Regions from separate parts of the Homo sapiens genome. Here region 1 is linked to region 2. A link means that fine-mapping ties the variant in region 2 to the expression of a gene that starts in the linked region. Tissue or cell type: whole blood. Region 2 holds a variant in brackets; the other region holds the start of a gene. All regions are shown on one strand. Distances are between the middles of the regions.

The links. PIP is the estimated chance that this variant, and not a neighbour inherited with it, causes the effect.
Region 1: it holds the start of CLXN, and the variant in region 2 is the best candidate, but not a certain one, in a credible set for the expression of CLXN in whole blood (TOPMed, PIP 0.61).

What each region holds. Positions count from the first base shown.
Region 1 is chr8:48,732,794-48,738,178 of GRCh38, forward strand. It overlaps CLXN (calaxin), which reads right to left and starts at 2,475. Exons shown (of 6, transcript NM_024593.4): 1 at 2,301-2,475. The coding sequence starts at 2,358. RefSeq lists an enhancer at 1,880-2,554.
Region 2 is chr8:48,759,039-48,764,423 of GRCh38, forward strand. No RefSeq gene overlaps it. Among named protein-coding and RNA genes, the nearest start is that of CLXN, 26 kb to the left of the region's middle. The variant G/T (reference allele first, on the strand shown) is at 3,325.

The sequences.
Region 1 (5,385 bases), 26 kb before region 2:
ATTCTGACACATAGATGAACATTTATGGATATTGCACTTAGTCAAATAAGCCAGACACAAAAGGACACATATTGTATGATTCCTCTTATATAAGGTACTTAGTCAGATTTATAGAGACAAAGTAGAATGATAGTTGCCAGGGACTAGGATGAGGAGGGAATGGTGAGTTAACATTTAATGGGTAGAGTTTCCACTGGGAACAATGAACAAGTTACGGAGGTGGATGGTGGTGTTGCAAGCAGAACAGTGTGAATGTACTTAATGCCATGAAATTAAGCACTTAAAATGGTTAAAATAGTAAATTTCATGTTATATGTAACCACATACACACACACACACAAACCTCCTAAAAAGCAAGAGCTGTTAGTTGTTGCGGAAGAAAAGCCTGCATGAAGAATGATGTACTCTGTTCATGTACATAAAATGGTAGCAGAGGGGATGTTGGTTAGCCATTTTTCCATCTCAGCTGAAATAAAAATTTTTAAAAACTAGTTTAATTTATTACCCAAAGGATCAAAGGTTAGCCATAAGAAAACTTTTATTGCTAAACATTTCTTAAATTCTAGAATACAATACTAAATGAAACAAGAAAATTCAAGAATAGGTTTTCATCTTCTTGGAATGCTGTGAATGTGTCCTGCAGAACATATCTGTAGAACAGTGCATGAACTAGATGTTCTCTTAAGATCTTTCACTCTTCTTTGATTCTACAAAATTTATCCATTGAATCTTGATAGCTTTATTGTCTTGCAACTAAAACAAAATTTAACTTTAGGGGAAAGTTCTTCCGTTAAAGAAAATTTAAAATTATTATAATGTCCATGACGTATAACTATTTCTATAGACTTTAACTAATAATCATCTAAGTTTGTAAGACTCATTGAAAATTTTTTAGTAAACAAAAAAATCAAGAGCAGACTTTTTCCTGCCATATTTTTACTTACCTTTAAAAATATACACTCACCTTTTGATTGTTCACAGAATGATTGTCTGCAATGCATTCAAACTTACCGAACAGAGACTAAATCAAATTCAAACTTACGGAAAGGGACAAAATCAGTATTGTGTATAGCAGCTATTGCATTGTTTTTGAATATTTATCAAAAATGTTTACTAGATGTTTACTAGAAGAATACCTATTCTCCCAGAAATGAAAGTGTTTTAAGAAAAACAATAACAGAACAAAACCCTCATCAGAGTATAGTAGTCATAATAATATCTTAAATTACAGGATTTTTTTCCTAAACATTTTAAGATGCGTACACACACCATAATATTCATTTATATCACCATCCACTAAGAGAGCATTTCTTACCAGGTATTAAATCAGATACTAATGATAATTAGAATGCACTAGATCTTACAATCTCTAAAACTACATCAACATGTTTATTCCTTCTTTTTTGAGCGACTCGGTTATTTGGGGGATTGTTGCTTCTGTTTCTTCAAGTGGCCAGTAGTTTTGCAATTAGCACACACAACTTCTAAGTTTGCTCGACAGGAAATTATCTTCCTCATCTAAACCATACCCACGGCTTCCTTGCTAAAGTGCAATTATGTTTTTCAGTCTGAATATAAACTCAAAGTTTCCTATGAAATTCTAGGACCACCCTTTCAAATGCGAGATTAGAGCAGGTGCCTTCAAATAGGGCTCATCTTGTCACCTGCAAAGTCTCCTTTATCTTTCAACACCAGGGGCCACTGGAAAGTGGGAGTCTAAAGTTGGGAACCCATTCTTTACCACGTGTTTAGTTGTGCTGAACTCTGGTTTCCAAACAAATATTGTTCTGAGGCACAGATGAGATGACACAACTCATCTCTCCGAAAGATGTTGAGAAGTTGAGCACCGTTTTCTCCTATGGGTCTCTTGGTAAGCTTCCAGAACTTGGACCTGCGGGTGTATGTGCGAGCTATAAAGCAGGGTGAGTGCACGGTCTACCTTGGTGGTGCTACTTTTCTTGAGACCAGTTGGTTTTAGCATTTATTTTACACCTCATTGAGGCTAACATCACATGTTTCTATCAGGTAAAAGAAGAGGGTTGGAGAAGCAAGTAAATGCATGTGTGGGAGTGTAGGTAGCACCAGAGGCGGAGGCCTGGGTTCCTAAGATCAAACGCAAGGAGCTGGCACCCCGGGATTCCCTCTCTGACTTCTGCTTAAGGGGCCGGGGTGGAGGGGCGGTAGGTAGCCCACAGAGTCCCAGCAGGCGGGAAGCAGGCACAACAGCGGACCTTAGCACGGGGTGGGACCCAGGCTCGGTCCAGGAGCCTCGGCCTGTCCAGCACTACATTCTTACTTACAATGCTTGCAATTTTTGGTTAAGGTGTCCGTCAGCTTCTGCAGTTTCTTGCGGTTCATGTCTGGCGCTCAGAGAATCGGGCCGCGGCGGGGGTCTCTGGGCGCGCGGCTACCGAGACCCTCGCGGGACCCCCGCGAGCCCTGGTGCTGGGTCAACGCGGTGAGGTCTCAGTTACTGATCTCGTGCGCGGCCCTAACAGACGGTGTAGCCAAGGCAACGGCTCAGCCCGCCGCGGATTGGCTCCCAGGCTGCCCGCGACGTAGCCAAAGCTACAGCTGGGCCCCGCCCATCGGCTCAGCGACTGCTCGCGCTGGGTTCTCGGTGCGCGGTGCCGCCGGCAGGGTCCCAGCTGGCCGCCTTGAGGGCTGTATTCTGACTGTTGACGTTGGAGTTTAAATGTTCAGTTGTTGCTGGCTTTTGAGTTCGCAGCCTCTTTGCTTGATTGCAGTGTAAATCATTAAAATCTGAAATGTGGTGTGCACGCTGTATGAGAGGTGTTTCGGGTCGTGAGCGTCACGCCTCAAGGGAAGGCCCAAGATCTTGGACATCTTGGGGGCTGGAGCAGCGTCACAAAATAGCAAGGTGCTGTCCAGAGGACGATCTTGCCGGGCCTCCCGTCAGAGGGCTAGAAGCTTGCTCTTTGGGCGGAGCCACTGCTTAGGTTTTCAGTCTTGGTGAGGTAACAGGAGGCAGTCTGTCACCTGAGGTCTTCGAGCTTTTAGTTGTGTTTCTGAGAGCAAGGGGAAATTGGAATACAGCCACGGGTTGCCTAAGGAGCGGGACGCGTTCCGAGGTCACTAGGAGATTTCATCACTGTGTGCACATCACGGTGCACCGACACAAACCTAGATGGCCTTGCCTACTGCACGCCAGGCTGTATGGTACAACCCATTGCTTCTGGGCTGCACCCCTGCACAGCAGGTCACAGCGCGGAATGCTGCAGGCAGCTAAAACAGAGTGCTAAGCACTCTGGGGAAGGTGCAGTGTTCCAGTACAGTGTTACATCTTATGGGACCACTGTCCTAATGTTGTCTGATGTTGACTTAAATGGCGCTATGTGGCTTGTGACTGTAGTTTTTTTCTTTTCCCACTGCCCTCATCTCACTTCCAAAAGATGGAGGTTGTCTGTGGAATCTGAGGAAAGCCACGAGGAATTTTTATACTGCTTAAATAGGCATTCCCCCCAATGAAAACGGGCTGACAACACCACTTGGGTGTGGGGTACAGCCCAATCTTGCTTTTCCGGAAAATATCTCAGCAACCTTGGTCCTTTACTTATTTGAAAGACAAGTTCTGTGCCGGCAGACAAAGGATATTCCTTACATCTTCAGGGTGGGAGGACTTTCTGCTTTTCCTGATCACAGAGGGGATATCCTCTTTCAGCTAAGGCAGCAATAAAAAGGGGTGGCTCAGCCAGGATCACCAAATCTACAGTATTCTCCAGAGTGCCTGCTCGTTTAACTTCAGAGGGGAAAATGACAAACTATGTTATTGTACACATACTGGCATTTTTAGACTGAAGGCAGAAAAATTCTACTAACCATGAGTAATAATCCCAAATGAAATAATTCCAATGTCGAGGCCTCTGGTTTTTCTTTACTGTTTCATTTGTTTGTGGAATGAAGGATTGGGATGCTGTTTGAAACTAGAGCAAAGGGTGCTTGGTAAAGGCATGGACTGTGTTATCCTAAAGCAAATGTCCTAACAACAGTTACCCGATATGAATTGATGGTGATTATGAGTTTGTAACAGTAGTATTTTTAAATAGTGTTTCTACATATCCCCTTGTCTAGAAGAGTGAAATTCCTGAGACCATAGAGAACAAAAGGGAAAGACTGGACATATTTGAATTATACTTACCTGTGACACCTTATTGATTTCTGTTGGATCACAGAGCTGTAGCAAATACTTAATTCCTAGAGATTGCTGCACTGCTCACTTCAAGAGACAAGGAACCGAAAGAGTGGTTGTCAGTAATTACTAAGAGACGCTGTGGGCTCCCCACCTGATGTACTAGGCCTGTGTTGGGGAGCAGGCCTGCGCTGTTGGTGAGCACATTGGTGGTTATTTCTGGTGGCCTGGGGAGATCGCATACACCGGGTGCTTGCTATAGGTAAGCTAATTAGTTATTCCTTCACGAGTTTAAGGCCTAGAGCCCATCAGCCATGTTCCCTTAAAGTTAAAAAAATAATAAAAAGATGTAGGGGCAATATCACAGATTGTTGAAATTAAAATATGCCGGGCCAAAACTCCTTAACCTGTTGAGCAAACTTTGTAAGTCACCTCCTCCTCTTCCACTTCTTTTATCCTCCAGTTCTTTCTTCCATGCAGTTCTTTTAGCCAAAAAAATCAACCAATCTATCTATCTATCTATCTATCTATCTATCTATCTATCTATCATCTATCTATCTATCTTTCTATCTATCTATGCAAATGCATTGTTTTGTGAATCTCACTTATCTAAGAGAGTGATTTGCAGAGTTGACCTTACAATAAGGTCTTATCATCTTTTTCAGGGAAAGCACAATGTTTATTTGGAGTATGTTTTGTCAACATACGGGTAAACTTCAGAGCTTTCATTACATTCTTGTGAAGTTTTGGAACTTAATATTTTTAGACTTTAGAAACAAGTTGCAGGCCTGATTGAGTCAGTGAATAACATTTCAAAGCAAGTTGAAGTTTCTATTTGTAGTTTTAGTTGCTTATGCTGAGTAGACACAGGACTGCTTTCCCCCAAGAGCTTTCTCAGAGTAAGGCAATTAAGCCTAAGAGGCTACTTCATATTAAATCAATCAATAATGGAATAATAAAGGATTGTGTTTAATTCGTATTGGACATAAATTTTACTGTGCATGAAATGATCATAGAACTTTCCAAAAATCCAAGCAACCTCAAGATGAATAACTTTGTAAACACAGAAGTACATTAAAGTGACTATTAATGCTATGTTTCCTTTAGTTTTGTGTGCAAAACAATCTTCCCTTTGACTCAGCATTCACTGGATTGTTGCCATGATAAACAGCTTGGACCTTGACTTGATGAAATTGTTTTCCTTAATGTGGACCTTTTATGATGAAGGCCTTTGG
Region 2 (5,385 bases):
TTTCCTTTGTATACTTTGTCACATTTAATATTATGTTTAGACTTGACCTTCCTTGGTAGCAAGGAATTATCTTTTTTAAAACAAACAAAAATTTTATTTGTGTTTATAGCTGCAATGCATCGTTACACTCCATCTTATCACATACCTTAGCTTGGCTACAATTTACATTTGTAATATATCTGAAGACTTACTTGCTTTAAATTCATAATACAAGCAGGGTTTGAAGCTGACATAGAGCATATTAAAGATAACATTTTTGTGTTCTTCCGTATATGCCTTATATTCAAATCAATGTCATTAAGTACAGTGTAGAATTAATTACTCCTTAGCTTCTTGTGAACTAACAGTTCAAATTACTAGATGTGCAATTACTTGAAAGAACTGACACAAAATTTGGTTAAAATGTATTATAATCCAAAATCATGCTGCTATAAAGACACATGCACACGTTTGTTTATTGCGGCACTATTCACAATAGCAAAGACTTGGAACCAACCCAAATGTCCAACAACGATAGACTGGATTAAGAAAATGTGGCACATATACACCATGGAATACTATGCAGCCATGAAAAAGGATGAGATCATGTCCTTTGTAGGGACATGGATGAAACTGGAAACCATCATTCTCAGCAAACTATCGCAAGGACAAAAAACCAAACACTGCATGTTCTCACTCATAGGTGGGAATTGAACAATGAGAGCACATGGACACAGGAAGGGGAACATCACACTCCGGGGACTGTTGTGGGGTGGGGTGGGGAGGGATAGCATTAGGAGATATACCTATTGCTAAATGATGAGTTAATGGGTGCAGCACACCAACATGGCACATGTATACATATGTAACAAACCTGCACATTGTGCACATGTACCCTAAAACTTAAAGTATAATAATAATAAAATTTAAAAAAAGTATTATAATCCAAAATATTTATTATTTAGACCCTATCACTGACTACTCTGTTTTCTTGTTATTTTTATGCATATACTCACTTTGAAATGCTTACCGGGCCCTATTTTAATTTTGATGGGGTTATGTCTCATAAACTCATCATTAGTTGAAAATATTGTAAGTCAAAATGCATTCTCCACCCCAATAAGCCTGTTGTAAGGTCAAAAAATCAAATCATCATGAGTTGGAGATGATCTGTATCTTGTTCTTCATCTGTCTTTTTAAAAATTTTATTTTTAATTGACAAATAGTAATTGTATACATTTATTATTGGTCTTTCTGAACGCACACTGATTACTTTCAGTTAGCAGTGGCTCAGCTCAGTGTGTTCTGAAACTGAGAGGCTCAGGGGACCTATGTCTTCTTGGATCCTGGCATTTGCTCAGACTTAGTGGTTCTCTCTGCCTGGGAATGACTTGGTACCTTCTTTTTTCTGGAGGAGATTATATGAAACTGCTGTTGATTCTTAAGTGTTTGGTAGCATTCTCCATGGAAACTGTGTCTACGATTACCTTTTTAGGATACTTTTGGTTACAAATAGAATTGTTTTACTAGTTATAAGGCTATTCAAATTAGATATTTCATATGGTTGAGTTGTAGTAGTTTGTGCCAAGGAATTTGTCCATTTCATATAAGTTGTCAAATTTTTCTGTGCAGAGTTGTTCATTTTACTCCTGTATTATCATTTTATTCTCTGCAGGGTCTACAGTTATATTCTCTATTTCATTCCTGATACTTGATAATTTGTGTCCTTTCTTTTTTTCTCTGTAAATCTTACTAAATGTTTGTCGATTTTGTTGATATTTTCAAAAGAAAAGCTTTTTTTGCTTTATTGATTTTCTCTATTTTTGTTCTGTTTTTAATTTCATTGATTTCTGTTCCTTTACATTATTTTTCTTCCCTCTGCTTTCTCTGTGCTTAGGTTTCTAGGGTCTTGAGATGGGAGCTTATTGATTTGAAATTTTCCCTCTTTTCTAATATAAGCATTTAGTGCTATAAATTTCCTTCTCAGCACTGTTTTAGCTATGTCTCACATTTTTTCTTTTTTTCTTCTTTTAAAAAATTTGTATAAATATAAGAGGTACAAGTGCAGTCTTGTTACACGAATATATTTTGTAGTGGTGAAGTCTGGGCTTTTAGTGTAACCAGCACCTGAATAGTGTACATTGTACCCAGGAGGTAATTTCTCACCTGTCACCCCTTGCACCCACCCATCCTTCTGAGTCTTCAATGACCCATGATACACACTCTATGTCTATGACGTGTTGTTGTTTCATTTGCATTTAGTTTGATGTATTTTTTACTTTTTCTGAGATTTCCTCTTTGACCCACGGATTATTTAAAGGTGTAGTCATTAGTTTCAAGAGTTTGGAGATAATTTTCCGTTATTGATTTCTACTTTGGTTCCATTGTAAGTGACATGCTGTATGATGTCAATTCTTTTAAATTTGTTTTGTTTTGTTTTCTGATGGAAGATATGCTCTCCCTTGGTGTGGTGACTAGATTTTGTTGGTAGATGGTATTGAGTTCTTCCATATTCATGGTGGTTTTCTGTCTAGTTGTTCTATCAAATATTGAGGCAGGGTATGTGTTGAAATCTCCCACTGCAATTGTGGGTTTGCCATTTCTTTTTTCAGTTCTATCAGATTTTGCTTCATGTAACATGCATCTCTGTTGTTTGATACACACATTGAGAACTTTTATGCCTCCTGGTAGCTTGACACTTCTGTCATTATGTCATGTACTTCTCTGTAACTGGTCATTTTCTTTGCTCTGAAGTCAACTTTATCTGATATTAATATAGCTATTCCTCATTTATTTTAATTAATGATTGTGTGCCATATCCTTTCCATCCTATTATTTCTATTTACTTATACCATCGTATTTGAAGTGAGTTTCTTGTAGGCAGTACATACTTGGGTTATGTTTTTGCAATCCACTCTGCCAATATATTTTAATTAATTAATTAACTATTTCAGACAGGGTCTTCCTCTGTAGCCCTGGCTGGAGTACAGTGACTATAGCTCATTACAGTTTGAAACTCCTGGGCTCAAGCAATCCTCCTGCCTCAACCTTGTCAGTAGCTGGAACAGTGGGTGCATATCATCACATCTGGCTAATTTTAACAATTTTTTATAGATATGGGGTCTTGCTATATTGCCCAGGCTGGTTCAAACTCATGGCCTCATGTGATCTTTCTGCCTCAGCCTCTCAAAGTGCTGGGATTACAGGTGTGACTGCTGTGCCCTGCCTGTCTTTTTTAAATCATATATTTAGACTACTTAAACTAAATTTAATGTAATTATTGAATTGTTAAACTTAAGCCTGCTATTTTATTTTTCTTTCTGGTTTTTCATTTTTTTTTGGGGG[G/T]GTGTGTGTCTTTTTTCCTGGCTTCCCATGGGTTAATTGAAACTGATATACCAACAAACAGGCTTTGAGTTCCTCTTTTGCTCAAGGCGTGAATGTATGTGTCATTGAGGCATAAGAAGCTGTATTAGTTTATAAGGGCTGCCATAAGAAAGCGCCGCACACTGAGGGGCTCAAACAACAGAAGTGCATTTCCTCAGAGTTCTGGAGGCCGGAAGTTGAAGGGTAAGGTGTCAGCAGGATTGGTTTCTCCCGAGGCCTCTCACTGTGGCTTGCAGACGGCCGTCTTATCCTGTGTCTTCACATGGTCTTCCCTCTGTGTATACTTATCTCCTCATCACTTCTTATAAAAACACCAGCTGGCCAGGTGCAGTGGCTCATGCCTGTAATCCCGGCACTTTGGGAGGCCGAGGTGAGTGCATCACCTGAAGTCAGGAGTTCGAGACCACTGTGGCCAACATGGTGAAACCCTGTCTCTAATAAAAATACAAAAAAAATTAGCCAGGTGTGGTGGTGCGTGCCTGTAATCCCAGCTACTCGGGAGGCTGAGGCATGAGAATCGCTTGAACCTGGGAGGTGGAGGTTGCAGTGAGCAGAGATCGCACCATTGCACTCCAGCCTGAGCAATGGGGTGAGACTCTGTCTCAAAAAAACAAAAAACAAAAACCAAACCCACCAGTTATATTGAATTAGGACCCACCTTAATGATGTTATTTTACCTAAACTATCTCCTTTAAGGCTCTGTCAAATACAGTCACAGCATGAGGATCTGGGGGTTAGGGCTTCAACATGTGCGTTTTTAGGGGACACAATTCGGGTTCGGCTCATAACTTAGGATTCTGAGACAGCCCATTTCAATGGAGGACACAGCACCACACCTACCTGTCTGCTGCCCCTGGATTCAGAGGTCAGCCAGGCCCAGGTTGCCCATGGAGGCCGGCTGCCTGAGGTAGACGTTATGCTGGGTGTTCAAGGGGGGTTAGGCCAGCTTTCAGGAAAAGATGGCTCCTAAGTGAGAGAAGCCCTCTCACTCTTGTTCTGCTCAACCTCCTGCTTGAAGCAAATAGGGTATTTTTCTCTCACAATAAAGGAGACAGAGGGCCTGGGGCATGTGTTCCTGTGCACTGGGATAGCTGCTGGCTTCTTAGAGCCCACGGCTATCCAACAGTTCCTGTACTCATAAGGATATTTCATAATTTTTGAAACGATTGATGGTTTTTTTTCTGCTTTCTAAAAGAAAACTGATTCTTAAATTTTATTGAAATAGAAAACAAATGATGTATTGCAATAGATCCTTTTGCTAAGAATTCACATATTCTGAGGATAGGTTCTTGTTTTTTTGTTTGTTTAATTTTAATATAACATCTGCACTTAGATTTAGCAACTGGATTTTCTTTGACCTCAAAAATCCATGTAAACCAAAGCTCCAAGTATGAACTGCCTCCCCACCCCTTTTTTTTTGCCTCCTACCTCCAACACATACACATTTTCTGTTGCATTCAAAAAGCCTAGTGAAGTCTCTGAGCAGCAGTTGGTAGGGAAAAAATAGCAGCATAAAAGCCTCCTTCCAGACATGTTTAGCAAATTCTTTCTTATTTTAATCTTTCATTATGATTTATTGACGTATTCAAAGTTTGTCCCAGCGACCCATCCCAGCAGCCCCAGGCTGTAGAGATAAACATCCTTGCTGACTCTTAGCTGCGTTTGGCCATTTATTCATGGCTAGTTTTTACTGCACCCCTAAGGAAATAAGAGCACTGTGTATTCTAGGGAAAAAAAACACTCTTTTCAAATATCCCTTCTTTCCGCAGCTCTGTGTGTGTGCCCTGCAAGCAGTCCTTGGTGGCAGTGAACAGAGTGGCTTTCTGTGGAGCCGCCACTCCTGTCTCAGGCTGCCGACTCAGTGTCTGTGAGGGGAATTCCTGTTCCTGGCCCAAACCCACAGGCCTTGCTCGTGAAGGCCTCTCACACACTCTCTTTTTCTTGCTTGGATAAGAATCTGTGCTCTGGAGACTCTTCCATGGAACCCAGAAAGAAAAAAAAAAAAAAACAGAGAGAGAGAAA